Homo sapiens: one gene and its partners. The protein of the gene in region 3 purifies or fractionates together with the protein of the main gene of each other region. This does not show direct contact. Each region holds a gene or a part of one and is shown on either strand. Other genes may lie near its edges. The genes, in order: ING3, EPC2, JAZF1 and MBTD1.

Region 1 (7,153 bases), about 93 Mb from region 3:
TGACATCTGGCTGAGAAACACAAATAAGTATTTAACAACTATTTATGAGTATCATGCTTCTAGAACAAAACTATTTTAACAGGATAGATTTTTGTGTGTGTTAGTCAAATTTCACTAAAACGGCTACTAAAATAAACTGTCAGTTTCTTCTACCGGAACCCTAAAACAAATTTCTTCATTGATAATATGTTGATAATATGTAGTTTGGTTTATTCCTTAATAAATGAGGTGACCAGTGCAGTGATGGTCACAGGAAAAAAAATGTTTACTACTGGTTTAAAAGTAAATAAAATATTTCAATGAAAAAATACAACAAAATGCAACGCCATATAAAACACTGAGGGATAAAATCAAACATAATTGCATACTATGGTGATGTACCATAAATTCTGTAAAAGTAATACATGCTTATTTAAAATTCCTATAATATAATGTTTAAGCAAAGGCATACCTACACAAAATCTCTTTTAAGGTCTATATTCCACGCCTCTGTTTAAAGTCCTTCACTGGCTTCCCACCGCTTTAGACTAAGAATCACTCTCCTCCTAGACTGGCTCGCAAGGCCCCCATGCATTAGCTCCTGCCTGCTTCCTTTCATGCTGCTCCTTTCCCATTACAGACCACAGACCAACCACCCCGGCCTCTCTCTTGGTTCAACTTGCCAAGTCTTTTCCACTCCAAACTTTGCCCTTGGTATACCACGTGCCTGAAACATTCTTTCCTTAGCTTTTCCAACAGGTGGTTCTTTCTTATTTTCCAAGTACCACCTCAAACGTCATCTCCTTAGACTACATTCTTAACAGCCTTCGCCAGTTATTCAATTGTCTCTCCCTTTCTCCCCCTTCCTCTCTTTCTACAATGTTTATTTCCTCCTGTGTACTTATCGAAATCTAAAATAGTCTTTATTTAATAGTTTGCCAGGCCAGGTGTGGTGGCTCACGCCTGTAATCCCAGCACTTTGGGAGGCCGAGGCGGGCGGATCACGAGGTCAGGAGTTCGAGACCATCCTGGCTAACACGGTGAAACCCCGTCTCTACTAAAAATACAAAAAATTAGCCGGGCGTGGTGGTGGGCGCCTGTAATCCCAGCTACTCGGGAGGCTGAGGCAGGAGAATGGCATGAACCCAAGAGGCGGAGCTTGCAGTGAGCCGGGATAGCGCCACTGCAGTCCAGCTTGGGCGAAAGAGTGAGACTCCGTCTCAAAAAAAAAAAAAAAAAAAAAAAAAAAAAAAAATGTGAGGAAGTGACAAGGAGTATAGGGTGACTTTCAGTGCCCTAATCTGAATGACTACAAGGTCAGTGTGGTTCATGTGAGATTTAGAAACAAAAAGTTGGTGATGGGGCAGGGGAGGGTAGTTAGAGAAGAAAAAGGAGATGCTTTGAGTTTTAAATTTCAAAACACTGAGTTCTAGGGCCTGGGAATAGTCAGCTAAGATTAAAAGACTCAAAGAAACAGCTTGGGCTTCAGGAATAATTAACGTATAATTGTTAACACTAAGAGAACACATGGAATTGCAATAGAGGAGTGTCTCTCAACTTGGGTGGTGTGCAAAGGTTGGGGATAAAACTTGCATTTGAAAGAACAGGTCTTTACGCTGTGGAATTTGTTCTTCCTGGCCCTCTTGGCAGGTAGAAGAGGGGAAGACAATCACCTTCATGTGAGAACCACTTGAAGAGTAAGAAACCATGTAGGTCAAGGACAGAACCCTGAGGAACACCATCATTATGAGCTGTACCCAAGAAGGAGACTAAGAAAGGTCACAAAGGTGGGAGCATCTAGAGCAGGCAGTCACATGGTAATACAAGGTCAAGAATGGCAAGACAAAACGAATGGCAATAAGCATTAAATTTACCAATAGGGTCAGTTAAAAAGAATTGAAGCTGTCTGATGAATTTAGCAATAAAGAATTCATTAAATGAAGTTATAGAGGATTAGTAAATAGAACCCCAATTGCCATAAATTTAGGAATAAATTGAAGGTAAGGGAGTGTCAAAGAGTCTGAATGAGAAATTAAGGAAGACTACACTAGCTAAAGCAGAGTCACGGTCACGACACGATTTATATTAGATTGCCTGAGTTCTTTTTAAATATGAGGAAGACCTGAGCATGTTTAAATGCTGTGGTATAGAAGCCAATAGAAAGAAAAGAGGCTAAAGATGAAAAAGAGAAGGCATAAGTGATGAAGCAAAGATGCAGCAAGTAAAAACATGCCCTAAGGCAGCAACAATGTGGAAGGTACCTGTAAGAAAAGTGGTCAAGAGCTCAACCAGTCTCTTGATTGAATAGGAAAGGGCTGATAAAATAGGAGGAAGTGTAGACGCAAGAAGTATCAGAGGCAGGGCAATTCCAAGTGATGATCAGGTTCAGTCTGTGGCGACTGAAGTGGATTAGCATTTACAAAAGCCAAAGAAGTAGATGACTAGGTAGTATAAGATGATTGCAACAGAGAACTGTGAACCGGGTACCAGTTTTTCAATCTGAGCCTCACCTAGAAGCCATTAAATTATAGTGATAAGAGGCAGAGGGTAACTGAGATGATTATCACTAAGTCTGAAAGAGAAGGGATTTTTTATATTAAGGATATAATGTTCACCTGAAATAGGATTAAAGTATTTAAAAAGAAAGGCAGGGAAGGAGAAAGGGAAAAAGAAAAAAAATAATAAAAAGGAAGAGGGTAGAGCAAAGGTGGGGGCAGAAAAGAAAGGGTGGGGGAAGAAAAAGAAGAAAAGACAAAAAGAAGCCTCAGAGATACTAGGAGAGTGAGAGACAGCAGCTTCCACTTGGCAGAGTTGAAAGGGAAGCAGTGGCTTCAGGAAAATAGAAAATTCCAGTTCAGGAAATGAGATGGACTGAGTTCTTAAAGAAGGAGCAAATCCTACTATCTGCCAAACTAATAGCATTGTATGTATTCTAATGCAAACCCTTCAGTAAGGTATAAATTAATATTGCTTTTTTACAGCAGGAAACTGTGGTTCAAGATTAAATAACTTTTCCAAAGTCATGGTGTCAGTGAAATGGCTGAGCTAGGGTTTGAACTCACATCTGCATGGATCCATTATGGACACTTGCTTTCTGTTGTATTTCTTATGCTTTATTAAATTTACTACCTCGCCTTTATTACTTCACTCTTTAGCCTTGGAATCTATCCCTTCTCAATTAATTTCTGAATTTGTACTTTCCTTCTGTTTATGCCATTATCTCTGAGTGAAATGCTTTCCCCTCAATACAATACCTAATTCAGGACCTTGACTTTCTAAACAAACTCTGTTCAAAACTCTTCCTATACCCTCTAAGAAATCAGTAAGTAACTCTGCATGACTTACTTCAATGTTTTTCAGTAGACACCCCTTAATATTCAACTGGTTAATGTTTATTACATGTTTCTGTATGGATTCTCCACTTTAGTTTGCAGGTATGTCTGCCCCACAACAGTAGTTTACAGACACCTTGAGGACAAGAGCCATTTCTAGTATTACTTTTTTTTTTTTTTTTAAGACAGAGTCGCTCTCTGTCGCCCAGGCTGGAGTGCAGTGGCGCGATCTCTGCTCACTGCAAGCTCCGCCTCCCGGGTTCCCGCCATTCTCCTGTCTCGGCCTCCCGAGTAGCTGGAACTACAGGCACCCGCCACCAGGCCCGGCTAATATTTTTGTATTTTTAGTAGAGATGGGGTTTCACCATGTTAGCCAGGATGGTCGCGATCTCCTGATCTCGTGATCTACTCTCCTCGGCCTCCCAAAGTGCTGGGATTACAGGCGTGAGCCACTGCGCCCGGCCTAGTATTTACTTTTTATTCCTCCATTAGACCCAGGTACAGCTCCCTTTTTTCAGGCACAGAGTGGATGAACAGTGTGGTTTTTAAATAAGAGATGAATACACACACACACATATTTAAAAAGCATATATTTATGTTATATTTTTTCTAAATACACAAAATATCTTTAGTAAAGGTCTAACAAGCAATAAAACAACAAAATAATAAACAAAACAAAGAATAGAACCAAAGAGCTATATGAATTAAAAAGCAGGCAGTCTCTAAATAAGGACTGATACATACAGTCATTGAATATGAGGAAGAATGTTACTAAACAAATTAGTCTAGATTCAAATGTAAATGCCTTTTTCTAAGTTTATAGACATAATTAAAGACTGAAACAATTAAGACCTTTTTTTTTTTGGTTTTTATTCCACAGTAAATCAAGCTACAGCCTATTCTACCTATCTTTAGGCAGTGTCTTTTATGAAATTTTTTTCAGAATAACTCTATGAACAAAAGAGCCCAGGTTGTTAGCACCATTAAAATGTGTGTACTACATAAAAACAACTAGACATTTTCCATGGCTCTACATGACACATTTTCAAGTTTGTGGTATAAGCATTTACAATTCACACCATATGTGGTGTTCACCTTTTATCTTGTGTCCTGCTCACCAATGACATTTTACTTACACGTACTTGTTCAGTAATAAATCTGTACCCAGGAAAGACAACATAAGTATGAAATCTATACACTGAAGTTAGCCAAAAGTGAGCATGTGTTTTCTGCTTTAATTTACTTTAATGCAAAAACAGAAATGACTATTTCTTAAAGTGTATATTTTAGGAGAAGATGTTTCAAATGAAAAAGAGCACCACAATTGCATCAATATGAGAAATAGTGAATATTCTATCTATCTTCTTGGTGTTTTCAATCTTTTAGAAGTGCTGCTGCAAAAAAAGAATCTTGTTTAAAGTTTGTCATCTTGTATTGCTTAAACAACTGACACAGCTGTTACATACGATCTTTTAACATCACTCACATAAACACTGATTCAAATGATTCTTCTTCATTTTAATCAGACTACCAAGAACTCTTGTCAAAGCAGTCTTCTTAGGTGTATTTTACCACAGAAACAATCTCAAAATGATGTATAAGGCAAGTAAACACACTACCTTAAGAAGACAAGGATTAGTAAAATAAAGTTAAACATTAATTCTTGTTTAAAAAATATCTAACATCAGAAACCACCTTACCGCCGTATAGACTTGCTAAAATGTACAGTTCTCACCACATTAACTAACCACTCTGACTTTTCCACAAAGAAACCATAAAATGGACACTGAAATGTCAAATTAGATGTGATCAAGAGAGCAATACTTCAGTTTTAGTTGCTTCTTCCTACTACATTTAAGCCAATACAATTTAAGATATAATCTGTTATTCAAGTACTTATGGCACAGTATGCACATTACTTTTACTTACCAAGTCATATATCTGGTTTGCCAACTGAACCTTCTCATCTGCATCTTCCAAAGCTTTATAGTAGTCCTGAATGAAAACATTTTCATTTCAAAAATAAATTAATCATTTTAAAATATTCATATGCAGGACATACAACTGCATTTTCATTATCATATCTTGTTATCACAGTCATCCTACCTTAGTAATAAAAAACCTGTTAGAGGCCAGGGGCAGTGGCTCACGCCTGTAATCCCTTTTGGAGGCCAAGGAGGACGGATGACTTGAGGTCAGGAGTTTGGGACCAGCCTGGCCAACATGACAAAACCTCATCTCTACTAAAAATACAAAAATTAGCCGGGCATGGTAGTGGGCGCCTGTAATCCCAGCTACTCAGGAGGTTGAGGCACAAGAAGTGCTTGAACCGGGAGCCAGAGGTTGCAGTGAGCCGAGATTGGGCCACTGCACTCCAGCTTGGACAACAGAGCGAGACTCTGTCTCAAAAAAACAAAAAACAAAACAAAACAAAAACCTGTTAGAAATAGGGTGGGGATGGTATAGGATTAGAAACTATGCACAATGGCCAAGAGTAAAAGGGAGATGTTCAGAATTTCTAGAAAGGATATAATTAAAAGTAAATGCCATTGTAAGTCTAGAAAAAGCTATATGAGTTAATGAACAGTATTTAAAATAAAAAGTTAACTAAAATTGATCTAACTTGTAAAGTACATTTGCATTCCATTAAAAAATTTTTGTTAAAGTTCAGCTATTGAAAGGATTCTGATCTGCATTTCCCCATTTTCCAGTTGTTCTATAACTCCCACTTTAAATTAGGTATATATTCATACAACTCAATCTGTATTTTAGATTTTGCCTCAACTTATTAAATTTTTTTTTAAAAAAGAGGGGGAAAGAAGATGATACTATGAATTTCCATGGAGTACTAGACTTTTCAGGGTATACTTAAGGTGCACTCCACAGGTTAAAGAAATGATTAGTGACTCTGGGATGTGGATATAACATGTCTTTACTCACAAACACATGTCCCTCCAGGTATCTTCCAAGCTAGGACCACTTCTGTTATAGATTATGATTTTTTTTTTTCCTAAGAGAAACAATCTTCCCTCCATGTGGTAGAATAAATAACATATCATAACAGAACTACTCAATTTGTAGTTTCCAAATTTCTTCCTTAGTGGACCCTTTTTTTTTTTTGAGACGGAGTCTCACTCTGTCACTCTGTTGCCCAGGCTGTAGTGCAGTGGCGCGATCTAGGCTCACTGCAACCTCCACCTCCTGGGTTCAAGTGATTCTCCTGTCTCAGTCTCTCGAGTAGCTGGGATCACAGGCGCCCACCACCACGCCCAGCTAATTTTTGTATTTTTAGTAGAGACGAGGTTTCACCAGGTTGGCCAGGCTGGTCTCGAACTCCTGACCTCAGGTGATCCACCCGCCTCAGCCTCTCAAAGTGCTAGGATTATGGGTGTGAGCCACCACGCCAGGCCTCTTAGTTGATCCTTGAACAATTCTATGAACATTGGGTTTAGGAAGGCATTATTATTCAGAAATATTAAGATTTAATGTCACACAGCTAAATAGCAGAATCATGACCAAACTCAAGTCTTTTAAGTTGTTTTTCCAATGTATCCATCCCTAAATGAACTCAATCATACTTTCAAAGCAAACTTTGAGATGTACGTGTATACTCATTCAATTCTGGAAGACAGCTATAGCCACTATAAAACTAACAAAACCTCAAAGAATTCTATGTTTCCAGACCAATTCGTGTGCAAATTTAGAGTTTAAACTAGAAGGCTTTCTTAAATTCCTTCTAACTTTTAAGATTTCGTTCTTCTGTGGGTCCACTAATTTAAGTACCTAGCAATATATAAAATATTCTTCAAGGTCTGCTCATGTTTATTTACCTAGTTTGTGGC
Region 2 (7,813 bases), on a different chromosome or scaffold from region 3:
TGGATTGGAAAGGATCCTATTTTTTAACCTCCCGTGGCCTTGCTCCAACAATTGTATTTCTGTTCCAAACTCGGTCATTTTTAAAACCTCACTATCATCCAATTTTATTAAAATAAGTACTTATTTTTAAAAATAATTATTTTACTTATTTTATTAAAACAAGTAGGCTCATATTCATCAGCTCAATGGAACCTAGTGCCTCTCAAAAATCCAAAGTCCAGGCCAGGTACGGTGGCTCACTCCTGTAATCCCAGCACTTTGGGAGGCTGAGGCAGGCAGATCATGAGGTCAGGAGTTCAAGACCAGCCTGACCAACATGGCAAAACCCTGTCTCTACTAAAAATACAAAAATTAGCCAGGCGTGGTGGCATGTGCCTGTAATCTCAGCTACTCAGGAGGCTGAGGCAGGAGAATTGCTTGAACCCAGGAAGCAGAGGTTGCAGTGAGCCAAGATTGCACCACTGCACTCCAGCCTGGGTGACAGAGACTCCATCTCAAAAAAAAAAAAAAAAAAAAGAAAGAAAAAAAAAATCCTGAAATTACATCTACATAGCTTGCTTGCTGTTTGGACACACATAACTGTCCAAGTCAGATTTGTTAGCTTCATCACAAGAGCTTTACTTATTTCTCTTATCCCCATCCAAAAGCCTGAGTGAGCAGCGTCAATCTATTCCAAATGTGGAGCACTGGTTGTGTTTTACGGTCCGGGTGGGGCAACAAATGAGACAGGCTGTCAGTGCAATTCAAAATTGGGTGTTGTGGACCCTCTGGAGCTGTGTGTTTTCAAATCTGTTTCTTTTTTTTTTAGTTACCAAAATGCAGAGCTTTCAGGCTGATTATTTTGGAGTCTATTTGGATCCTTTGTGGAGCTGGGAAGTAAATCGTCAGCTTATACACAAGGTGGCACCCTGTGATTCCAACCAGGTCTGAGAGGAGCGATGCTGCTAAGAAACTGAGCCACAGTCACAAATTTTTATTTACCATCTGCTATTCCCACGGTGGCAAATGCAGAGGTAGAAGTAGATGTTTGGCAGGTCACCTCTCAGTGTAGTCTCTGTCCCTATGTCTCAAAGATGCAGAGCTGCCTCAGAAAAGGGCACTGGAACCACAGAACTGATTCCAGTTGATTGTAATGAATGCAGACCCCACATTCAGATTACATATGGAAAACAACGAAGCTTTATTAGTACTAGGCTCATTCCTGGGAACATAAGGGGGAGGGGTGGAGATGCAGTTCACATACTAACCCAATTAACTTTCAAATGGTTTTGCTGAAACCAGGAGCCAATTAGAAAGAACGTGACATTTGCAAAACTCTGAAATAGTTGAATAGCAACTGTGTTTACTAGTTTTAAGATTCCTTTCAAAAAGTAATTTGTCCATTATTTGGAAGCTGCCTGCCTTGATTATAGTACTGGGAGATGGACACTGGAATGTAATCCTAATTCTAACAGTTATTTGACATTTATTCTAATTTAGACTACATTTAGACAGTGATTTTATTTTGATATGGCTTTAAACTGGTTTTAATTCTTGGGTGCTTATATATTATGCTTGCTGGGCTAAATGCATGTCATTTGGAATTGGTCTAGAGCATATCTGAAGTGGACTGATTTTAGAATGACTATACTTAGCGCATTGTATGTGGAAATTAAAATAGGCTATTAGGCTGCACACCCATTTGAGGCAGGTCTTGATAAAAATATTTCATGAGAGAATTTTTTATTTTATAAGAAGATATTTTTTGCTTTTAGCACTAACAATTATATGAGTATTCAACAAATCAATCAGAAATAAACTTTATGAAAAGTAATATTTATATACAAATAAAAGTTACTTTCCAAAAGTGAACAGTGGCATTCCGGTTTGGGCACTGAATTGGAAGCCAAGAAAACACAGGCTGTGTCTCCGTTGAAAAGTATATTGTGTTATTTGCCTTAAATGGTTTTATTCCCAGCTCTATAATCATTGCCTACAGGGTGAGAAGAAAATGGAGATTTGGGGAAGAAATCTTTTACATGGTCAAAGTAAAAGAACAACAAAGAAACAACCACAACAGCAAAAATCCCTTCCTATAAATTCCAGGTTTCAAAAAGGTGTTTTTGAATAACATTAATTGGTTCTAAAATCTCTATGCACAAAGGTACAAAGCTGGACAACAGGGTAGGCCACAGTAAGAACAAATATTGGCAGCAATAGCTAGGTCAGGTGACAGGCCAGTGAGGTATGTGAACTATAAACTAGAGTGGCATGGGGTCAGTATCAGTGAATTTCTTCATGGAATATCAGTCAACAAATATACTTTAGATGCCTGCCATATGTGAGGCATGGAACTGGGGATACAGTGATTGACAGACAGATGTTGTTCCTGCCCTCCTTGGTCTACTGCAACTTTAGGCTCTGGCTTATGCGCTCCCTTGGCCGTTGGTTGGAAGGTCTTAGTAACTAATTTTGAATTAGCAGCTTTAGAATGCTGACTGGTCAATAAGCTGAAGAGCTTGGATAGCAGGGTAGCACCACTGAGAAAACCAGAGTTTTGGAGTCAGGTCAGACCTGAATTTGAGCCCAGTTCTGCAAGTTGTTGGAATTGAAATTTGGCAAATTATCTGATGCTCAGTTTTCTTATTGGTAAAATTATATTTTTTCATAAAATTATAATAAGAATTAAGTGGAATTCAACTAGTTGAGATAATATATATAACATGTTACTACAATGGATGGTATATTACACATACTTGATATTTCCTTTTCTGAGAGAAACAGTAAAACTAAACATAGGGACTAGAAGAAAGCTATCCTTTCTGAACCTGAGGAGGGCTGGGCATCCAGATGAAAGCTCTGGATGACTCATTTCTTCAACTATTGCTTTTTTCTTCCCTTTCAGGCTTGAACCCAGTGCTGACCCCCTCCCAAGAACTTCTTGTTCTTGCTTCCAGAGGATTGGAACTGTTCCAGGGGTAGCACTTAGAGAGCAGGACATGCCCATAAGCTTGAGGAAGGTACTGCTTACAAGAAATGAGTCACAGCAACTCCATTGCTTCCAACAACAAAGTGGATGAAAAACACTCAAGCCCCACTAAACAATACTCGGAGTTTTGCTGCGACAGACTGGTTAGACTATTTGGACACTACCATGAAGACTATATCCACCATTCTGCCTTCAAAGGAGGAGACTGCAGAGAGAAAAGGGGAAGAGGAACAGGAGGAAAAAGGGGGAGGGGAGGAAGTGGAGGAGGGGAAGAAGGACGTAATAGAGGAAGAGATATAGTTTTATTGTCACATAGAAATGACAGTAGGAATCAATTTTTTCACTGTTGGTCTTTAGGAAATCATCTGACTTTCTCTGAGTTAGAGTATGATCGATTATTAGAAAATGGTAAAATGTGTTAAAAACTCTCTTTGTACGGTTTTGTGAGAAATGTGTAATGCTTAAAGACTAACCAAGAGCCTCTTGGCTAAACCAGGTTGATGTCAACAATAGCTAGTACTTATTTGAGTCACCTTGATTTTCCCTCCTCTTGAGAACTTTCTCTAACCAGTTTAGGCTGCAGTCATGCCTCCTTTCCTTTCTCTGAACTCTCACAATTATTGCCTAGATCTCGTTTGGTAATTAATCATGTGCTACTTACTGCCTGTGTCATCTCTTGTATTGTTTTCTTAAAATATTTACACTTTTTTTTCGGTTGTCACTTATCTTTCCAGCTGTCATTTTCTTCAACTATTTACGTCTCTGTTACTCATCTTTCCAGCCATCCTGGCATCCCATTAAGGTGAAAGCTCTCTGAGGCAGGAACCTTTTCTCAGATTTCTTCGAGTCTTCCACAGCACCCCACATTTGACACACATCTGCTACTTCGCAAATGTGTGCTGCCTTGGCTAAATTTTTAGAAGCTGAACTTTTAGGAAAGCTACTATTTTTGAACTCAGAAAAATACCTACCATCCACTAAACAGCTGTACCGAAGTTTGGGTGACAGGGAACCTAAGTTCACTTGTTGCATCTGGCAGCCTCAAACCATGAACCCTCACTGCAAAGCGAGGATGAACGCGCTGCTGCACCTTGGAGAGCTCTTTCGGACAGGTACGGAGGGGAGGGCGTAGAAGAGGGCTGGCACCAGCAGCGCGGTCCAGTCCTCCGAACGGACTGATGGGACTGATGGGAGAGACCTCTTGCACCTCTCGGGGATGTGCGCCTCGGAGGATGCGAATTAGCTTGCGCACAGGGCGCCTTGGGGATAGCGCTGTCCAAGTACAGGCTTGGGTGATGGCTGGTGGGGTCCGGGTCGACATTTTCCCTTCCCGCTCCCGGACTTCTGCACACACGCGCTGCTCGGCGCAGCCGTCTTTGCCCGGCGCCTTCCTCCGGGACACCCAGCGAGAGGGGTGACCGGGCGGCGGCGGGAGAGGCGCACGCTCCCGGGCGCGGGCGAACTTGCGCACCTGGCACCTGCCACACAGCGAAAGCACCGGCCAGCGAGCGGAGGGGCGCCGCCCCCGCCCCCTCTCCCCGGAGCGGACCGAGACCGAGCACGCTCCCGCGGGCCGGCAGCGCCGCGGAGAGAGTGGGTGGGCAGGCGAGGGAGGGGAAGGGAGAGGAAGGAGGGAGGGAGGGAGAGGGCGAGGCGCGTTCCCGCGACGGGGGCGCGCTCTCGCGCGGGCTGCCGGGATCGCTCGCCGCCGCTGTGGTAATGTCCGCCATGTTGGCCATGGCGCAGGGAGCGGATCGGGCGGGCGAGCGGCGGATCTAGTGTGTGGAGGCGGCCGCGGGCGCGGGGGGCTGTTTTCGGGCGGGGTGGGCGCCCATGCTGTGGCCGGGGGCAGTGAGGAGGAGGAGGAGCGGGCCGGCCGCGCTGCACTGAGGAAGGAGGTGGAGGAGGCGGCGGGAGTCCTCCCCCCCTCCCCGCCCGCCCCGCCGCCGCCGCCCGGGCTGTTCCTGTAAGGCGGGGAGACAATGAGTAAACTCTCCTTCCGAGCGCGGGCGCTGGACGCCGCCAAGCCGCTGCCTATCTACCGCGGCAAGGACATGCCTGATCTCAACGACTGCGTCTCCATCAACCGGGCCGTGCCCCAGATGCCCACCGGGATGGAGAAGGAGGAGGAATCGGTAGGGACTCGAGTGTTTATTACCCCCCCTTCCCTCCTCCCCCCTCCCCTTTGTCAGTCGGGCCTCGCCATTCACAGAGCGCTTTACGCTCGCTGGAGGGCGCCGCTGCCGCTCTAACGCACGGGACTCTACGCCGGCGGAGTAGCGTAAACCCTCTCGGCCGGCGTAGCGCCCGCCCGCGGCCGCCATGTTGTTGCGTCCCAGTGTTGTGATTAGCTCGCAGCGCTGCTTACGCTGCCGTAAGGGGGCCTTGCCGTAAGCGGCGGCCGGGAATGGCGCAGGGGATGCGCTGGCCGCTCTTGGCGTACGGTCTCTGTTTACCTTTCCACCTCCCTCTCTCAGGCGCGGGGCTAATTAATGGCGTGGTATTATTTGGCTAGGCAAGATTATTATTTTTTCCACTTTTAACTTTGGCTTTGTATTGAGTTCTCTTTGAAATGACTGTGGAAGGGTGCTTTCAAAACAAACATCTTCCTCCCAGCAATGTAATCATCCTGGCTCCCCCGCCCGCGAAGGTGCAGCGGGATGAGGCGGTGCAGCACTGCGGCGGGGGAGGGCGGGGGCCACGACTACCGAGCGGGTCGTAGCGTCCGAGGGCCGCCCGCCGGCCAGTTCTGCCGACCCGAGCCGGGCGCGGGGCGGACGGGCTCTGCCTGCTCCGCCTGGACGGCCGTGCTCCGTGCGCAACGTTAGAGAGGAGCCGGGGATGCCCGGAAGCGAGCCGCCGGCGTTGCGTTGTCCTCGAGAATTGTCATTGCGAGGTGGTCCTTAGAAGTTGAGGACCTAGTGCATCTAAATTGGCAGTTGTAATTTTGATAATACAGCACCTTTTGGGAAAATTGCTGCTTTTCCTCCGATGGGTTAAATTTTGCAGACGGTTGGATTTCATCTGGCTTGACAGAGAGTGTTTATGACTCGAGTGGTGTTACTTGCGTGCGAAGTTCATAGTAACTGCACCCTCAAGAATTTCTTCAATGAACCTACAGTCCCGCCTTATTGTCAACCTCGGGTGTGTGTGGATTGGTTCTCTTGCTTCAGTGACTGTCAAAAGGAAGCTCGAGGTTTCAGTGATTGGTTTTCTCTTTTGACTATTAATATTGCAGGAAATGCTTTTATGCCTTCGATTGGCTGGTTGAGTTCTGACCTCATTATGTTACCCTGTTAATACTACTTTGCTCTTATTTAATCACATTTCTCTTTGATGTATAGTTACTTGAAAGTCTTACATTTTCAGTAGAAAATGCATATGGCCGTAGCATCGGGATGAACTTAACTGTGTGTGTACACACACAAATATGTAATAGATATATATACACGCACATACACATATATATTTGTGTGTGCATATATATAAATATGTTTATAATCAAAACCCAGCATTTATCCCTAAGGTTTAGAGCTGTGAGAACTTTTTTTTTTGTATGTGAGAACTTTTTTTTTTAATTTGTTTCTAACGACTCAGTTTTCCATGGGAAGGAAAATTAAAATAAAATCATATTATATACAATAGTTAATTACATTGAACCCTAATAAGCACAACTTTGGATATTTTTGCTATTTTGTGGGTCTTGATCCAAAGAAAGATGGCCTTAAAAGTACCAGTATTGTGTGTAATTACTTTGATCCTATTATTTTAGAACTTGAGTCAAATCTGTTCTAGGCCGGGCACGGTGGGTCACGCCTGTAATCCCAGCACTTTGGAAGGCCGAGGTGGGCGGATCATGAGGTCAGGAGTTCGAGACCAGCCTGGCCAGTATGGTGAAACTCCGTCTCCACTAAAAATACAAAAATTAGCCGGGCCTGGTGGTGCGCGCCTGTAATACCAGCTACTCGGGAGGCTGAGGCAGAAGAATTGCTTGAACCCGGGAGAAAGAGGTTGCAGTGAGCAGAGATCGTGCCACTGCACTCCAGCCTGGGGGACAGAGCGAGACTCCGTCCCCCCCAACAACAAAAAAAAGGAAATCTGTTCTAGAGTGAACAGTTAACTCCTGGAAGGTATATTACTTTTTGCAATCACCAACATACGTGGTCCTTAGTATGCCACATATGTTTTGGTATTTTAATTTAGTAAGATAACTTAGAGTAATTTTTTCATGCTTCATTAAAAATAAAAGTGCTTAACTCGTGTTGCAATTTTTTGTTTATTTGTTTTTTGAGATGGAGTTTAGCTCTTGTCGCCCAGGCTTGATTGCAATGGCGCGATCTCGGCTCACTGCAACCTCCGCCTACCAGGTTCAGGTGATTTTCCTGCCTCAGCCTCCCGAGCAGCTGAGATTATAGGCGCCCACTACCTCGCCCAGCTAATTTTTGTATTTTTAGTAGAGTCGGGGTTTCACCATATTGGCCAGGCTGGTCTCAGACTCCTGACCTCAGGTGATCACCCGCCTCGGCCTCCCAAATTTCTGGGATTACAGGTGTGAGCCACTGCGCCTGGCCGCGCCTTGCAGACTTTTTTTTTTTTTTTTTTTTTTTTTTTAATTTATTACCGAGTCTAGCTCTGTCGCCAGGCTGGAGTGCAGTGGCGCGATCTCAGCTCACTGCAACCTTCGCCTCCCGGGTTCAAGTGATTCTCCTGCCTCAGCCTCTCAAGTAGTTGGGACTACAGGCACGTGCCACTATGCCCAGCTAATTTTTGTATTTTTAGTAGAGACGAGGTTTCACCGTGTTGGCCAAAATGATTTCGATCTCTTGACTCTTGCTCCACCTGCCT
Region 3 (8,120 bases):
GATAAATACCACATAACAATACCTGTCTAGAACTTTGACTAAATGCTTTATATTTTCACCCATGTCTTTTCATCAGAAGTGTATTTATATGACACTATCTACTAATTGGGATATTTTTATTCTTCTTAAGATCAGTTCTTCTTTCTGCATATAGGGCTGCCTTTGATAGTAAAGGGCCTCTCCCCAGCAGAAGTGTATAATAGTTTGAGCCTCTTCATCCTGGGAATTGCAAGTGTTTGTTCATTTTAACATTTGCTTTTCATAAAGTTTGCTGGTTCAAACTGTTTTCAACTGTGTTAGCCCTGCAACACAGTTCACCTAGGTCACTGCTATTGCTGTAAACTTAATTTTTCCACATTTTCACTATTAAAAGGACAACACTAGCCTTCTGGGAATGAGGTAGCATTACTTCAAAGCTGAGTTTTAGAAAACGTATCAAACTCTTAACCTTCTTTAAAAATGTGTGCAAAATATTAAGACAATTTCTACACTTAAAAAAAAAACCTCATGATTCACCAAGTTTTAAACCATCTCAAACTAAATCCTCAAGAAGGATAACTGTCTTTAACACATTTTAATAAATATAATTTATACTGTCTTTTAACCAGCTTGTCTAAGTAGGTAGGCAATGGGGTAAAATTATTACTCAGCTTATATAAATTATAGTTTATTCTGAAATAACTGTTAGCGAGAATGGATGGGATATGCAATGACAGCCTTCTGTAAGTCAAGAGAAATTATTTATTTATATTACTTATATCATACATATTAATGTATAGCATTATCTATATTTATTTTTTACTTATTATTGGGAGTAAGGGGAAGAACTTGAACTAGTAACATTTCTACCAGAACTTCACAGTACCGGTGTTTTCGCTTTATTTTAAACTAGCCATCATGAAAAATCTGATTTAATACTTTCAAGCACTTTCAGTTATGACTATTCAATCATGATATGAATCAGCAAATTGGTTGCTCCATTAAACTGCTTTTAAGACTACCAAAACTTGCCCAGCTCTTCTGTCATACCTTTAGCAGAGGAAATGGAAGAAGCTATTACAAGGACGCCTGAAAACTTGAAAAGTTTCAAAACCTGGACAATTACTCAACAGCATTTTCCTCTGAAAGACATTTTGTAGACGTTTCCCATGATTATCTCCTATTCCGGATGGCCCATCAAATCACATTCTAAACAGGCATTCAACACTTATTAAGCAGCCACTGTGTGCAGAGACAGCACTATACTAAGCAAAGGAGCATAGGGTTCTGCCTCATTTTATTCCTGCATAAATACACAGCAGTCGTGATTTATTCTCTCAACTTTGTAGAAACGTGAGCTGCATCCACATGGCTGAATCCATGGCATTCATTTGGACTTCCTGGGGGCAATTTACAGGTTCTCTGGATTAGACAGCCCCATTGGGACATCGCTCGGACCCTTCACCTTCTAGCCCACGCAGGACAACTCGCTGGCGTCGGTCACACCTTCCGCAGGTGGTTGGACCGCCTAAGCCAGATGCACCCGGCCCACCTCCCTTAGCAGGGGTTCCGAATAGAAGTGTGAAAATGTGTGCAATGACTTCTGCAAATCAGAGGACTTGTTGAAAGGTCCAGGGGTCCAGGCGTGAAGGGAAAGCAGCCACCCTGCGGGGCGCCCCCTCCCCGGCGTCTCCCGGGCCCGGGGCGCTGCGCAGGCCGCCGCCGATCCCAGGGCGCAGCCAGCGCACCTCGGGCCTAGCACCATTAGAAAGGCAAATCGCAGAGCCGGGGTGCATTTAAATGCCCGGCCATGGGCCCTGGGGGTGTCTCTCCAGCGGGCGCCGCCGCAGGGGCCTCCAGGGCGCGTCGACCCCGGGGCGCTGGGCGCGGCCCGCGGGCGCACCCAAGACCTCAGCCCGCAGCGCCCGGGCGTCCGCGCCAGGCCGGGGCAGGGGAGGGCACCCAGAGCCCCCGGGCCCGCGTCCCCGGCCCCGCCCGGGCCCCTCGGCCGCCTCCCAGGGAGAGGGCAAGCTCCCCGGCCCCCGCCCGCGGCCGCCGGCCCCGGCCCCCTCCCGACGCACCACACCTAGCAACCGGCGCTGACAGGACGCAGTGGCGGCGGCGGCGGCGGGAGGAGGAAGCGGAATGGCTGCCGCGGTGGAGCCACCCCCGCCCCCCCGCTCCACCTCCCCGCGGCTGCAGCCGCCGCCGAGCCCTGACAGCTCGAGCCGGGGCGGAAGCGCCCGGCGGCGTGCAGCGCCCGCCCCCCGCTGCCCTCAGCGCCTCGGGCTACTCCGACCACCCGGGCCAACTAACTCCGCGACCCTGCCCAGCGCCCAGCTCCCGCCGCCCGCCGCGCCCTCCGCCCCGCGCCCCGCGCGCCGGCACTCGGCCCCGCCGCCGCAACCCCGCCGCCCCGCCGCGGCGCTCCCCGCTCCCACCACTTCGCAGCCCGCGTGCACGCCCCTGAGTCCCCCAGCCGCCCGCCCGCCCGCCCGCGGCACCTCGGGGCGCCCGCCCCCTCCCCCACCCGAGCCCGCTCCCCGCCCCCCGGCACCTCGCGCCCCCGCATCCCGCCACCCCCACCTCGGGGCTCGCACGCGCCCTCCCCGCCCTGCCGCCTCCCTCCCCGCCGGCCACCCCTGGCCATTCCGGGGCTCCCCGCCCGGGCAGGAGTTTCCGCGCGCCTGGCACCCCCGCCCACCCCCGGGCCATTTACCGATGTGGTTGTCCTCGATGTGCTCGATGAGGTCGGCCAGGGTGGGGAAGTGGAGTCCGCAGCCCCCGAATCGGCAGGTATTGGAGAAGAAGGAGGCGGCGGCGATGCCTGTCATGGTGCTACATCGAGAGCCCCCCTGGTGTCGGCTCTGCGAGCGCCGGGCGGGCGAGGGAGGGAGGGAGGCCGGGTGGGGTGAGGAGAGGAGGGGCTGGGGGAGGGGGAGAGAGGCGGGGTGAGGGGAGCGGCGAGGACGGGACGGAGGGAGAGGGGGCGAGAGAGATGGAAGGAGAGCGAGGAGCCACCGGGAGGCAGAGGGGAGGCGGCGGCTGCGGCGGCGGCGTCGGGAGCGGCGGGGGGAGGGCGGGGGCGGGGGCGGGGGGGGAAGGCCGCCGCAGCTGGGAGGAGGGACCAGGGCGCGCGGCTACAGCTGTGCGGCCCCAACCTCAGCGCGCGGACCCAGGCCTCACCTGCGAGCCCTGCCACCAACTTTATCTCGCTAGGCCTGCCCTTTACGGCTTGCCATCCGTGCCATCTGTTTGGAGCCTCCTTGGTTATGTATATGACGTTCTTAATACACCCACATCGATTAATTACACCTACCTCCCTGCGAGGAGAACTCAGGGAGTTACCCTGGTCCCTCTCAGGGACATTTTTTTGTACTCAGCCACCTGTCTAGGTGTGACACATTCACAGGGGACCCAGGAAAGGTAATTGTGTGCACCTTCTTCTTTAAACCTTCTTTAGAAAAAGTACACATTCTCCGGAGGTTTGTACTAACTAATTGATTTTAATGAAGCTTTCCCTCTAGGCCAGAAAAAAATCTTAGCTTTATTTAAATTTCAAAATAGAGTGCTTGGTTGTCAAGTGCATTTGCCTGTGTTTTACATATGTGCCACGTTTTTTATACTCCCTGCTCCTTCTAGGAAAACAAAAACTAAAATAATTTCATCACCCGAAATTACAGCACCCTACTGCACCCACTCCACCATCTCAGGTCTGGTAATTAACCCATCCTCGTTTCAGCCACTGCAGAAAGGACAGTGCATTGGTTAAGGCTAGAAGGAGCGGAAACAACGGCAAGGGACATAGTGACTCTTCATTTAAAAAGGAAGCGATTTCATCCTGTGAGCATTTAAAGCATAATGTTGACCAGGTAACCACTTAAGGTGAATTTAGTAGCTTCCCTGAAAACCAGCATTTTGCTGAGAATCAATTACTTTCTTGTCCCCACCCCCTCCTCCAGTTGCAGTCATATTTCTTCTGTAAAGTGTGTATTTTCCAGTAGCACTTTTCCAGGTGTCTAAGAAATATTACACATTATCAGCAGTTTATGACCCAACAGTACATTTTTTTTATTAATATTAATATATGCATACTGAATTTAGCATTTTTCCTTAGGGCAAATTTCACTTACCCTCTGGTGCAGATGCATGGAGAAATAGTATTCCTCCCTCCATAAACTCTATGCATCTCTGTCTAGTGTTATTTCTAATAATGGGATTGTTTGCTTTTCATGTAAGTGCTTAGAGTAAAGGCACATGTAATATGTCTGTTGCTACAGGAAGTTTTATGATCTGACCATCACCGGTGGCATTTTCTCTTCTCATCTCTTCTGTCTTGCAGCTCACAAGGTGACAAACTTGCTGAGATGAGATTCGGCTTGGGTGGGGCTGGGGCAGCTGTGTCTTGAAGTTCAGTTTGGTGCCAAGAATGGTTTCATGGGCCCAATGAGGGTGGGGGCAGGGCCCTGGTGGGCCTGATAATGAGCCAGGGACCGAGTTGGCAGGGGACTGAGGCCAAGGCCAGACAAGGGTCTAAAGAGCAGGAGTTAGAATTCTAGATCTTGAATTAGAATTTTGGCAGCTGTGCAGTACATTCAGCTGCCCAATCTGGGAAGGCCTTCAGCTGAGAGCAGGCAGAATATCTGGCAGGCACACACCACACCAAATGACATGGAAATGCAATACAAAACTTCAGCCAAAAATGATGCCAAAACAGCCACCCTTAGAGATGAATGTTAGGCACCCCCACTATGCAGCATCTGGGAGCCCCAAAAGCTTTGAAGAAGTAGCAGTTCTGTCCTCCAGAGGAAAAATTGTCTACGTGGAGTTATTAACTCCCAAGAGTGTGGAGAGGTGGTTCAGGCAAGAGAGTTCCGAGATGGGAAGTGCCAGAAATGTGCAGGTGAAAGATGAAGGAAGTAAGGGGCCTGGGTTTCACTAATGCATGGCTTTCTACTACCTCCTGTCAGTTTCACTATTCCTAAAATAAAACCTTGCTAGACCAAATTGAAAAAAATAGATTTTTTAAAAAATGAAGTGAGCTAAAATAACTTCCAAAGTAAATCAAGATATTGGTTTTTAAGACAAAATTATTTTCTCTACCTTGGATAATTATTACTGTTTTGTAAGGAATCAGTTCATTTTGCCTGAAAATAATCCACCCTACTACTTCTTCATATGTGACTGAAGCTTTGTTTATGTGATGTTCTGCTCATACTACTTTTTAAAAATCTGTACACTCTAGGCATTTCCGGTCTTTATATAAGATACATGATTGTGATCTCTTAGACCTGGAAGATACTCTGGCTGTCAGAACCACTGGTTTTGGAGATGTGGTAAACTGAGGCCGGGGCATCAAGCAAGTTCTCCCAGGTGCACACAGACAGTTTTTTTCTCTGTACTCATGGTGCATTTAGAAGGCATTGATAGACAATAGAAGGACAAATTATATATAGATAGTAACCACAGGCAAAGTTTTTTAAAAATTGCTAATAGCATGCTTACCTTTCTGTACTTATATTTTTAAAATGTTTGTTTCCAGGATATCCCTTTAGATAAAGTCAACATCTAAGCTACAAAAATATATAAAACAAACAATTCAACTTATTACATCCGAGAGAGAAGGTGATGACTGATATACCTCTGTACTGGCAAAAAACATCTGTCTGATTTGGAAAGTAAAAATATTTGAAAGGAGAGGGAAAGTGAGGGAACTGAGAAGTCAGAATGATATGACAGTGGCTGTAGACAAGAAGCATTCTCTGGGTTTAAGAGCCTTTTCTTGAAAACCATCTGTCTCTCCCCAGAGCCCAGTGCCTCCCAATGTATAGGCACAAAGTATGGATGTGCAGTGGCCCCATAATATGGTACTTAGCATTACAAATGGTTTGAGATCGCATAACAGTCTCCCCAAATCCAGCATGTCCAGTGCCCTCGAGATGGGGCAGCTGCCGGAAGGTGTGAATCCACTGGTCTAATGGAGCCAACTGAAGACACTGAGGATCCTGCTTCATACAGCTGTCTGTCCTCCACATACAGGAATTGGTTTATTTTGGCATACACTGATAATCAAAACCGTGCACTTCCTGTGTCCTGTGTGGACATCTGTTAATGATGCAAGAGGATCTATATGAACATTAGATTCTATCTTGAATCTAACTCTATACTGCCTTCAACTGTAGCTTTCTCTGGCTTTTTAGATTGTTTTCCAGGTCCCTCTTGAGGTGCTTTTCAGGTTTACTAGATATTTCTTCTATTGTCACCACTGTGTCGAAGGAGCAGATCATGAACCTTGGTCTTCTTCAGCTCATGCAAGTCTGTGGACGCTTACAATGTCTGATGTTCCCTGGCTCTTGAATGCTAAGGCTGCCACTTCCACCAACAGCAACCTTGGGCTCAAAGGGATGCCTTCTTTTTAGGCTCCATCTTCTTCTAAGGAGGATGATTTCTATTCCAGGTTTTATTGTTTAATATTTATGTAACCAAGTTTTCTGTATTTATTTTATTCCAGCTCAGAAATGAATCAGCTTTATCTGCTCTCTGGTGATTAATTCTCATTTTGTCCCTCAGTCTCATTTTGCCTAGGATTAAGAGCTAGCCTTAGAATGAGTAATGGGGGTATTCTTATTAGTTGCCACCAGTGACCTCATGAGTGTTAGCCCCTAGCTCTCCACCTGGCTGCTCCTGCCTACTGACTGTATACGTAGTTTTGGCATTTATTTCCAGTTCCTTGAAGGACTTTTCCAGAACTAAAGTAGTAAAACACCCACCCAATCACTGCAGTTCTAATTGAGCATCCTGGATCCATTCCACTACATTATGTGCCACACTACTACCCAGATGATAACTCCAAACCCAAATCTGATGGGAGCCACTGCTGCTCAGGCCACCCCAACCTGAGTTTTAGAATAATGTTAACAGAAGCAGCTAAGCAATTACTGTTTCATTTTTGCCTTTAACCTATCTTGATTGAACATCTATGCAAAGCTCCTGTTACACAACTCCAGAAGGCTCTATTTATATAGGCAACTGCATGAACAGTGACCCTGGGATCTGTGCAGCCTTGCAGTCCTGTTCCACTGCGCAAGATATGAGGGATACAATTTGAATAAGACAAGCCCAGTCTCTCCTCACGTGAGAGAGCACTAGGTGCTTTGCAAAGTCCTCCTCAATCTATTCTAAGGGCCTGCTAGGGGTGGCTTGGTTGGACTCCGTGTACTACCCTCTTGGCTGCTCTGGTATCTATTATTTCCCTTCTTTCCAGCTTTGGCTCACTCAGATGATAACTTCAGTTGCTGTTGACTGTAATGGAGCCACTAAGGCCACTAATGCTTGTAAAAGACTGCACAGCCTTTTTTGCCCAAAGATGTGTTTTTAGACGTCACTGATTCTCACCCAGCAATGCACAGTCTTGAGGATTTCTATAACTTCAAAGGCTACTAGCACGTTTTTTGTTCTAGCTTTTTGAGGTTTTACCAGCTCACACTATTGCAGTCCGTTTCCTCTGGACTCAGACAAGTATCACTGGAGATTGGACTAGAAGATCAAATTGGGAATACTCCATGATCTCATCTCCCCTGCTAGAATGTCTTAGTGGTAACTTTCACTACCAGAATAGGCTTCCTGCTTTTCAGTGACCAAAATTGATCCCAGCCTTACCTCCTACAGTTTCCCCACATGTACTGACAGTTCAAGATGTACCAAATCATTTTAGTTTTCTTTCTTCTTCTTCTTTTTTTTTTTTTTTTTTTTTTTTTAAGATAAGATCTCACTCTGTTGCCCAGGCTGGAGTACAGTGGCACGATCACGGCTCACTGCAGCCTCGACCTCCTGGAGTCAAGCGATCCTCCCATTTCAGCTTCCTGGGTAGCTGGGATTACAGGTGCACGCCACCATGCCCAGCTAATTTTTTGTATTTTTTTATAGAGATGGAGTTTTGCCATTTGCCCAGGCTGGACTCGCAGTCCTGGACTCAACCACCTTGGCCTCCCAAAGTGCTGGGATTACAGGTATGAGCCACCGCATGCTGTCATTTAGTTTTCAAAATGCGCTCACTTGTTCAACAAAAACCACCTTGCCTTTCTTTGCAAATATTGTGTAGCCTGTCTGGAACATTCTTTTTCCCTCTTCCCTATTCCCTC
Region 4 (7,950 bases), on a different chromosome or scaffold from region 3:
AAATTTGCAGGTAAAAAAATCCTTAAGCCAAGGTTTATTAAAAAATAATGATTAAATCTATGTGCAATTTTTGCCTGAAATCAAAAGTCATCTTGCACAGTTAAGAATACTGTGGTGTTAGGAGAAATATCTTAGCTTGTTTTAACTATTGTAAGTCCTTTCTCTTTTATTGTCCTGATGTTTTTATTCTTTCTTGAATTTTGAAACCCTCAGACTAATGATACATAAGTGTGAAAGGTTATATCTTATTTAGCAAACATTTTAAAGATGAAAAGCTGAGAAACAAAGAGCAACCCAAAGAATGTCACTTGTCTAATTTTAGAATGTGGTTACTCAGACTACTGAGCACTCTTGGCTTTTAGTAATTCAGTGGTTTAGTATTTATCCTAATATGTTGTTTTCACTTTTAAACTATAGCTTATATTTTCCTTTGATCACTATGTTACATTTGAAAACAATTTAAAATGTTGTTTTAATTTTCAACATTATTGAGGGACCAAAAGCAGCACTAGAACATCTAGAAAGGTTTAGATAATAAGGTCAACATATAACCAGCTTTAAAGAATATGGCAGCGTCTTAAAAATAAAACCAGTTGTTCCTGTCTAGTATGTTTAGAATGCAGATGTCTCCAAAGTCAGTCAACTTAAGTCATGACAGTTCATGTTTAAAGTAAGCAGGAAAAAAACTTGGAACTCCTTATTAATTAAAATGTTAAAAACACTATTATTACACCTCTACTGATTCTTTTTCACAAGCTGAATTCTAATGAGTAGATTTAGAGGAAATATTTTATGTCAAACATTACATAAAGTTAGAAACTGGATGGTTAAAAAGCATGACGCAACAACGTAAGGCACTATGAATAAATACTTATTCAAGACAGATGTTGCCATAATTTGCAAGGTACTCACAAGCAATCAGTATGGGGTTTTAGATAGATAGAAGCTACTTGTTATTCAGAGAAGGAGGTGGTGCAAAAAAAAAAAAAAAGTACAGCTATTTTCTTTCTAAACACTCTGGTGTTGAGGTAAACAAATGAAAAATAAAATAACAGTCTAAGTCCACAAGAGCAAAGCAACAGTCTCTAAGTTATAAGAGGAGGAGAGAAAAATTGAGTCTAACCTTTTAAATAGGAGACTGGGGCTTAAGGTGAAATTTATTTGCTGGCTTTTAAATCACATGCATTATTTCTACATTATACCTGTTATGTCTTGACACCCACTTCACCACATTAGAGAGTAATAGGTATATCCAAGATTCTTAGGCCAATAAAACTACTTTTAGAGGCAGCATAGCTCACCAAATGAAGGAGAATGTTAGAAAAACACCCAGTGACAATAGTTTCAACTATCTCAACCACCCAGTGATAAGTACTGGTGCATGCTAATATAAGGAGAATTAAAAATATTGTAAACTCTAAACAAGTATTAAAATGGTTCGTAAATTTCAAATCTCATAAAAGATAGTTACTTAAAAAAAAAAAAGAAGGAGTAAAAGCATTTGGAAGAGAGGCCCTTGGAGGAAAGACTAGCTTCCGAGGAACACAGGTCAAATACGGGTGTGGGCGGTAATCATCTAATCATCCCTCTACCAGGTGATGCTTCTAACCACTTCAGTTTTAGACATCCTTAGAAGTGATTTAGGTAATAAACAAATGTGTTTTGTGATACAAGAACCACGGAGATGACGCTGAAATTTCTAACTTCAAAAAGATGCACTCCTAAGAGAAAACAGGCACGAAATTCCCATATTGTAATTCTTTAGCTTCCTGTAGAAAAACATCTTCAGGCATGTAAGCCAGCACACTTGACACTGACCCAGCAAAGTTTTCGGCTAGCCCTCACTATCTCTCAACCCCCCTTCCTCCACTTCCCTGCTGTTCTTTCTTGGCACACAAAATATAGGCCAATGAGCAGTGGGTGGGTGAGGAGGATGTGAGAGAAAATTTGAGAAGTAAAAAAAGGAGCAACTTAACCAGGACATGAATGAGACTGAAGGGTCTAATAAGGGTAGGCAGACAACAATTAGAACTACTGAAATATGGGCTTTCCTGGGCAGTAGTGAGCTCTCAGTGCTTTTAGGGGTGTAAGCAGGGTTCAGACTACCTACCACTTGTCAGAGAGGCTGCAGAGGGGACGGCTGCTTTGGATGACCTCTAATGTCTCTTCCGACTCTGAAATGTTAGGATTCTTATTTCACAAAGGAGAACGCAATGGTCACAGAAGTCCACCGACTTGAAACCCTTTTAAATATGCAGCCTTGGAGGCTGCTTCCCAAACACCACTCCCACCTCTCCCGCACGTGCCCACCCCGCCCCCTTTCAATATTTCCACCTCCACGTGCAAACCGCCTCGCGGCACTGCCCCCAAGGCAGATAGACACCTTCCCCTGCAAAGCAACGAAACTGTGCTCCCCCTCCCCGCCAAGAAGAGAGGACTACTCCACTCTCCCACCCTGGGTGGCTAAAAAAGGAAAAGTCTCGGATCCAGCCTTTCCCCCCTAGCCAGAGCAGGGGGCGGGGGCAGGACGCAGAGAAAAACTTTCTTCTCGAATTTTTCTTCCAAAGGGTGGAGGAGATGGAGAGAACCCCAACGAGTCCAAGGCTGACGGGGTGGGGGGAGGGGAACCCCTGAATCGTTTAACGGCTGGAAGGGGGAGGGGGGCTCCGGAGGTTGAGAGGGCGTGGGATGGAGAAGCAGGCCAGGGAGCGGGGTCAGGGAGCTGCGGGGTTCCTGGGGTCGGAGAGCTGCAGGCGTCCCCCCCACCTGGCACACAAAGCGGCTGCCGCGCTCGGCTCTCACCAGATCCTTTGTGTTTTCCATCAGGGCCTCATGGGTAGGGGTTGTCCGTGCTCCCCGAGCCCGCGGCGCCCCCTCCCCGGGCTGGGGGCAGGTGCCTCTCCCCGGGACTGCGGCGACTACAGGGGGCCCCCGGCTGGGCCCAGACCGGTGGCGGGTGCAGCAGCCCCCGGATTTCCCCCCTTTAACTCGGGTGGCCCCAGGATATCAACAACATTAGCATAGCCCTCCCTCCCCAGCGCGCCTGCGCCGTGACCCGCGCCCCGATTGGCCCACTTCCCTACATACCCTCCTCTCTCGCTTCCACCGTGGGACCCTCTGCAGGCTCCGTACTCCAAGGACCGTACCAAGACGAAGGGTGGAAAGCGTATTGGGGCTTGTGTCAAGTCAAGTGGTTACAGCCAAGAGGAAAAGCAGAAGTTCCATTCAGCCGTCCCAGTGTATAGTCGGGGTTTCTTGCGCTCCTTTCAATATGTTGCAGCTGCGAAATTGTGTTGGAAAAATTTTCCACTCCAGTCACGCCGCTTCCCCCTACACCCGGAAGATTGGCCCTCCCGGAGGAACTCCCACACGGGGCGGGGCTGGGTAGGGGAGCGGGAGTTACGTAGAGGGAGGGAGTGCTGGTCACGTGGCAAGAGGCTGCGCAGGCTCCTTCCGGCCCCCGGGGCTTCGGCGGCGGCGGCCCGCGAGGGGCCTGGGCGCATGCGCAGCGAGGTTCCACGTGAGCGCCTGCGTTTCTCCTCAAACCTAACGATGCCGCCGGAGCGGAGGAGACGAATGAAACTGGACCGGAGAACCGGAGCGAAGCCGAAGCGGAAGCCCGGAATGAGGCCGGACTGGAAAGCCGGAGCGGGGCCAGGCGGGCCTCCCCAAAAGCCTGCCCCTTCATCCCAGCGGAAACCGCCGGCCCGGCCGAGCGCGGCGGCCGCTGCGATTGCAGTCGCGGCGGCGGAGGAAGAGAGACGGCTCCGGCAGCGGAACCGCCTGAGGCTGGAGGAGGACAAACCGGCCGTGGAGCGGTGCTTGGAGGAGCTGGTCTTCGGCGACGTCGAGAACGACGAGGACGCGTTGCTGCGGCGTCTGCGAGGCCCGAGGGTGAGGGAGGCCGCGGCGCGCGGGCTGGGCGCACTCGGGCGGGGCGCGCGGTGGGCGGTGAAGCTCCGGGGGGCGGAGCCTGGGCGACCTGCGGCGGCGGGGAGCGCTCAGGTGGGAGGGAGCCCGAGAACGCGGGCGCGGAGGGTCGCAGCTGCGGGTCCCTCGCCTCCCTGCTCCAGACTGAAAGTGCCTGGAGGGCGGGGACCGCGTCTTTCTCCGCCCCTGGAGGCGCCGCTGCTCGGGTATCTGCTTTGCGAACTGTGGTCGTGAGCATCTTTCGCTGCTGCTCGACTCCGCTAGCCTCTTCCCAAACTGAGGGTGGTCTTTTGATCACCTGCCTCAGTTCCTTGTGATTCAGGAATTCGATTTCGTTGATGGAATCAATTCGTGGGCACGGGCCTGGGCATCTCCGTTGTAACTATGTCCCCATGTGACTATGAGACCCACCATGTTTTGAGAATGATCGTGTATTCCGTTCATTTAGCAAATATTGGTGAACCTGTTAGTTGCCAGATACCCTTTCTGGCAATGGCAAACCCTGCGTGATTGATCATACTTTTTGCACACATTTTGCTATCCCTTTAAATTCTATACCAGGCTTTTCTTGAGAGAGTCCCGGACATTGTTCTAGGCACTGGAGGAGACACAGCAATGGACAAAACTGACAAAAATCCCTGCCTTTTGGCGCTTGTGTGCTAGTGGCAGAGACAAGATAGAGGAGATAAACGAGTAAACTTCAGGTTTGTTGGTGACAAGTGCTGAAGAGAAAAAAGGACATTCGGGAAAGGGAGATGGGCGTGTGTAGAGGCCTGTGAAATTTTAGATAAAGGGGGCAGAGGAAAGCTCACCGAGAATTACCCAGGCCATGTTTATTACACAAATGCTGACCTAGTTAATGTCAGCTGCTTACCAGAGCCGCCTTCGGGTGCTTGTAGGAGAAGTGGCAGCAATCTTTTTGGGAAGTACAGAACTATTACTGGAAACATGCTGAACTGTGCGACGGTTTTGTCGTCTGGAAAAGGAACAGTGTACGGAGGTGGGAGCTGTTGGGTTTGAAGGCTATTAGACTAGTAGTAGAGCAAGTAGAAACCACTTGGACATTTCTATCATTGGTTTTGGGAAGCTCAAACTCACTTCAAGGGATATTCTGTGGTCTAGGTTTAGATTTTTTTTTTTTTTTAGACTCGCCCTGTCGCCCAGGCTGGAGTGCAGTGGCGCCATCTCGGCTCACTGCAACCTCCACTTCCTGGGTTCAAGCGATTCTCCTGCCTCAGCCTCTGGAGTAGCTGGCATTACAGGCGTGCGCCACCACGCCTGGCTAATTTTTTTTTGTATCTTTAGTAGAAACGGGGTTTCACCATCTTCGCCAGGCTGGTCTCAAACTCCTGACCTCGTGATCCGCCCGCCTCGGCCTCCCAAAGTGCTGAGACTACAAGTGTGAGCCACCGCACCCGGCCTAGGTTTAGATTTGATAGTATAAACTTTATGGTATAAATTTATAACTTTAGAATTTAGATTTAATGGTATATTTATTTTTTACTTATTTAGAGATACGGTCTAACTTTGTCACCCAGACTGGAGTGTAGCGGCACCTATTAGTCTTCCATCTCCCTTTTGCTAATAGTAACTGGTTGCTCTTCTTGTTGGTCACAGATAAATTACACCTGCACAATTCTCCGAACACTTTAAACTCAGAAGTCAGCTTCATCCTCCTAGGCTCAAGTGATCCTCCTGCCTCTGCCTCCCAAGTAGTTAGCTGGGGCCACAGGTGCACACCACACACCCAGCTAAATTTAAAAATTTTCTGTAGAGACGAGATCTCCCTATGTTGCCCAGGCTGGACTCGAACTCCTGGGCCCAAGCAGTCCTCCCACCTTGACCTCCCAAAGTGTTGGGATTACAGGCATGAGGCATTGCGCTCTCTGCTGGTATAAAGTTTCTTAAGGAGGTAGGGGGTCAAAAACAGATTGGGAAAATGGAGATATCTTTGACTCTAGTTTGCCTCCGGTCCTGTAATTTCTGTAGTTCTGACATTTCTCCTCCTTTTTTCATCTGCAGACTCATCTTTTGTTCTTGTCTTACTTGGTGTTTTCCTTCCTGCGTGTTGAGTGTTGACTTTTTCTCCTTGACTGTTCCATCTTGCCTCACCTGTCCAGTCGGTGCCATTCTCTGATTTCTCCATTTTCTGCCTCTGCTTCCAGCATTTGCAATGGTAGCATTCCATCCCATTATTTCATCAGAGAGTGGTAGAAAAAACATTCTATGAGCCATTTGGCTGTAAGGCCTATGTGTCTGCAGTCATGGGATAGGAAAATCTCAGTGCTTGAGGGTGTTTTGTCTGCTGTAGGTTCAAGAACATGAAGACTCGGGTGACTCAGAAGTGGAGAATGAAGCAAAAGGTAATTTTCCACCTCAAAAGAAGCCAGTTTGGGTGGATGAAGAAGATGAAGATGAGGAAATGTAAGTTGCCTAACTTTTCTTCTGAATCCCTCTGTACACTTAAAAAAGTTATTTTGCAGATTTTAAAATCATTCTTTTTACCAATTTGTGATTATGTGAAGATTTGAAAAATATTTGAAAGTATAGAAAAGATCTTTCATGGTTCCTGATCCCACCACCGAGGGAGAACTGCTGTTAGCATGTTGTCACACTTCTGTCTCAGTCTCCTCTTTGCTGTATACAGTAGCTAAGAGAATACAGTGTTTGAAGTCAGATCTCGATTTGCCTCCTCTTTTGGCCAGTTTCTAATTGACCATGGGCAGTTTGGAACCTACATTTTTTCCTTTGTGAAATGGGCACAATGATAGTAACTACATCAGAATTTTGTTGGGATTAAACAAAATAGTACTTGTAGAACTTTTAGCACAGTGCCTGAAACTGAGTAAAGGCTAAAAAGAAGGTAGCTCACACCATAGGAACTGTCATGGATGAGAATGTACTGTATGCTTGATTTAACATTTTGACTTTTTCTACATAAAGTTACTTTGTAAACATTTCTCCCTACTTAAAAAAAATAGACATTTTAAAATGGCTATGTTGGAGTCAATTATGTGAATTAACCATAATTTACGTGGCTATTGTTGGGTAGATTTTCTTTTTCCCTTTTTTTTTTTTTAATTATTTTTTTTGAAACAGAGTCTTGCTGTTTCACCTAGGCTGGAGTGCAGTGGTGCGATCTTGGTTCACTGCAACCTCTGCCTCCTGGGTTCAAGCGATTCTCCTGCCTCAGCCTCCCGAGTAGCTGTGACTACAGGCGTGTGCCACCACACCTGGCTAATTTTTGTATTTTTAGTAGAGACAGAGTTAGACGGAGTTTTGCTACGTTGGCCAGGCTGGTCTTGAACTCCTGACCTCAAGTATACACCCGTCTCTGCCTCCCAAAGTGCTGAGATTACAGGCGTGAACTGCTGTGCCCAGCCTTATTTTTCCCTTTAATGCAGATTATTTCAGCATTAATGTTTATCACCTCTTTATGTATAAACCTTTCTTTATTTTCTAATTTATTGCCTTAAGAAAGATTCTTTGAGGTAGAATTACTTAATCAAAGAGCACAGTTATTTTTAAGGTTCTTGATAAGTACTGCCAGACTGCATGCTATGGGGCTCTACCAGTTTGCCTTCCCATTGAAAGGTGTCAGTTTCAGTCCATTCTTAGACACAATGGTTTATTTGTTTTTTTTTTCCAGACTCTGTCAGTTTGGTAGTGGGTAATATCTCTACCTAGTTTGTTTTGAGGAAGTGTTTTTGTGTTTAGTCATTGTCTTCTTTTTTTTTTTTTTGAGACTCTCATCCTTTCATCCAGGCTGGAGTTCAGTGGCGCGATCTTGGCTCACTGCAACCTCCGCCTCCCAGGTTCAAGCGATTCTCCTGCTTCAGCCTCCCAAGTAGCTGGGACTACAGGCACATGTCACCATGCCCAGCTAATTTTTGTATTTTTAGTAGAGACGGGGTTTTACCATGTTGGCCAGGCTGGTCTCGAACTGTTGACCTCAAGTGACCTGTTTGCCTCGGCCTCCTAAAGTGCTGGGGTTACAGACATGAGCAACCACACCTGGCC

What was found.
Region 1: the proteins of JAZF1 (region 3) and ING3 purify together in Homo sapiens (co-immunoprecipitation; 2 studies listed by BioGRID and IntAct, with this or other methods). This does not show direct contact.
Region 2: the proteins of JAZF1 (region 3) and EPC2 purify together in Homo sapiens (affinity purification with mass spectrometry; 2 studies listed by BioGRID and IntAct, with this or other methods). This does not show direct contact.
Region 4: the proteins of JAZF1 (region 3) and MBTD1 purify together in Homo sapiens (affinity purification with mass spectrometry; 2 studies listed by BioGRID and IntAct, with this or other methods). This does not show direct contact.

What each region holds. Positions count from the first base shown.
Region 1 is NC_000007.14:120,953,712-120,960,864, reverse strand, and holds part of ING3 (inhibitor of growth protein 3), read right to left. Parts: intron 5,307-7,153; coding exon 5,241-5,306; intron 4,706-5,240; coding exon of another isoform or gene 4,694-4,705; exon of another isoform or gene 3,885-4,693; intron 1-3,884. UniProt on the Homo sapiens protein: Component of the NuA4 histone acetyltransferase (HAT) complex which is involved in transcriptional activation of select genes principally by acetylation of nucleosomal histones H4 and H2A.
Region 2 is NC_000002.12:148,640,068-148,647,880, forward strand, and holds the start of EPC2 (enhancer of polycomb homolog 2), read left to right. Parts: upstream 1-4,683; 5' UTR 4,684-4,950; coding exon 4,951-5,103; intron 5,104-7,813. UniProt on the Homo sapiens protein: May play a role in transcription or DNA repair.
Region 3 is NC_000007.14:28,177,765-28,185,884, forward strand, and holds the start of JAZF1 (juxtaposed with another zinc finger protein 1), read right to left. Parts: upstream 3,032-8,120; 5' UTR 2,814-3,031; coding exon 2,699-2,813; exon of another isoform or gene 2,693-2,698; intron 2,127-2,692; exon of another isoform or gene 2,066-2,126; intron 1-2,065. UniProt on the Homo sapiens protein: Acts as a transcriptional corepressor of orphan nuclear receptor NR2C2. Inhibits expression of the gluconeogenesis enzyme PCK2 through inhibition of NR2C2 activity.
Region 4 is NC_000017.11:51,257,033-51,264,982, forward strand, and holds the start of MBTD1 (MBT domain-containing protein 1), read right to left. Parts: upstream 3,018-7,950; 5' UTR 2,824-3,017; coding exon of another isoform or gene 2,803-2,823; exon of another isoform or gene 2,767-2,802; intron 2,175-2,766; 5' UTR 2,111-2,174; intron 1-2,110. Other genes in the region: UTP18 (U3 small nucleolar RNA-associated protein 18 homolog), read left to right, coding at 3,553-3,894, 6,242-6,354. UniProt on the Homo sapiens protein: Chromatin reader component of the NuA4 histone acetyltransferase complex, a multiprotein complex involved in transcriptional activation of select genes principally by acetylation of nucleosomal histones H4 and H2A.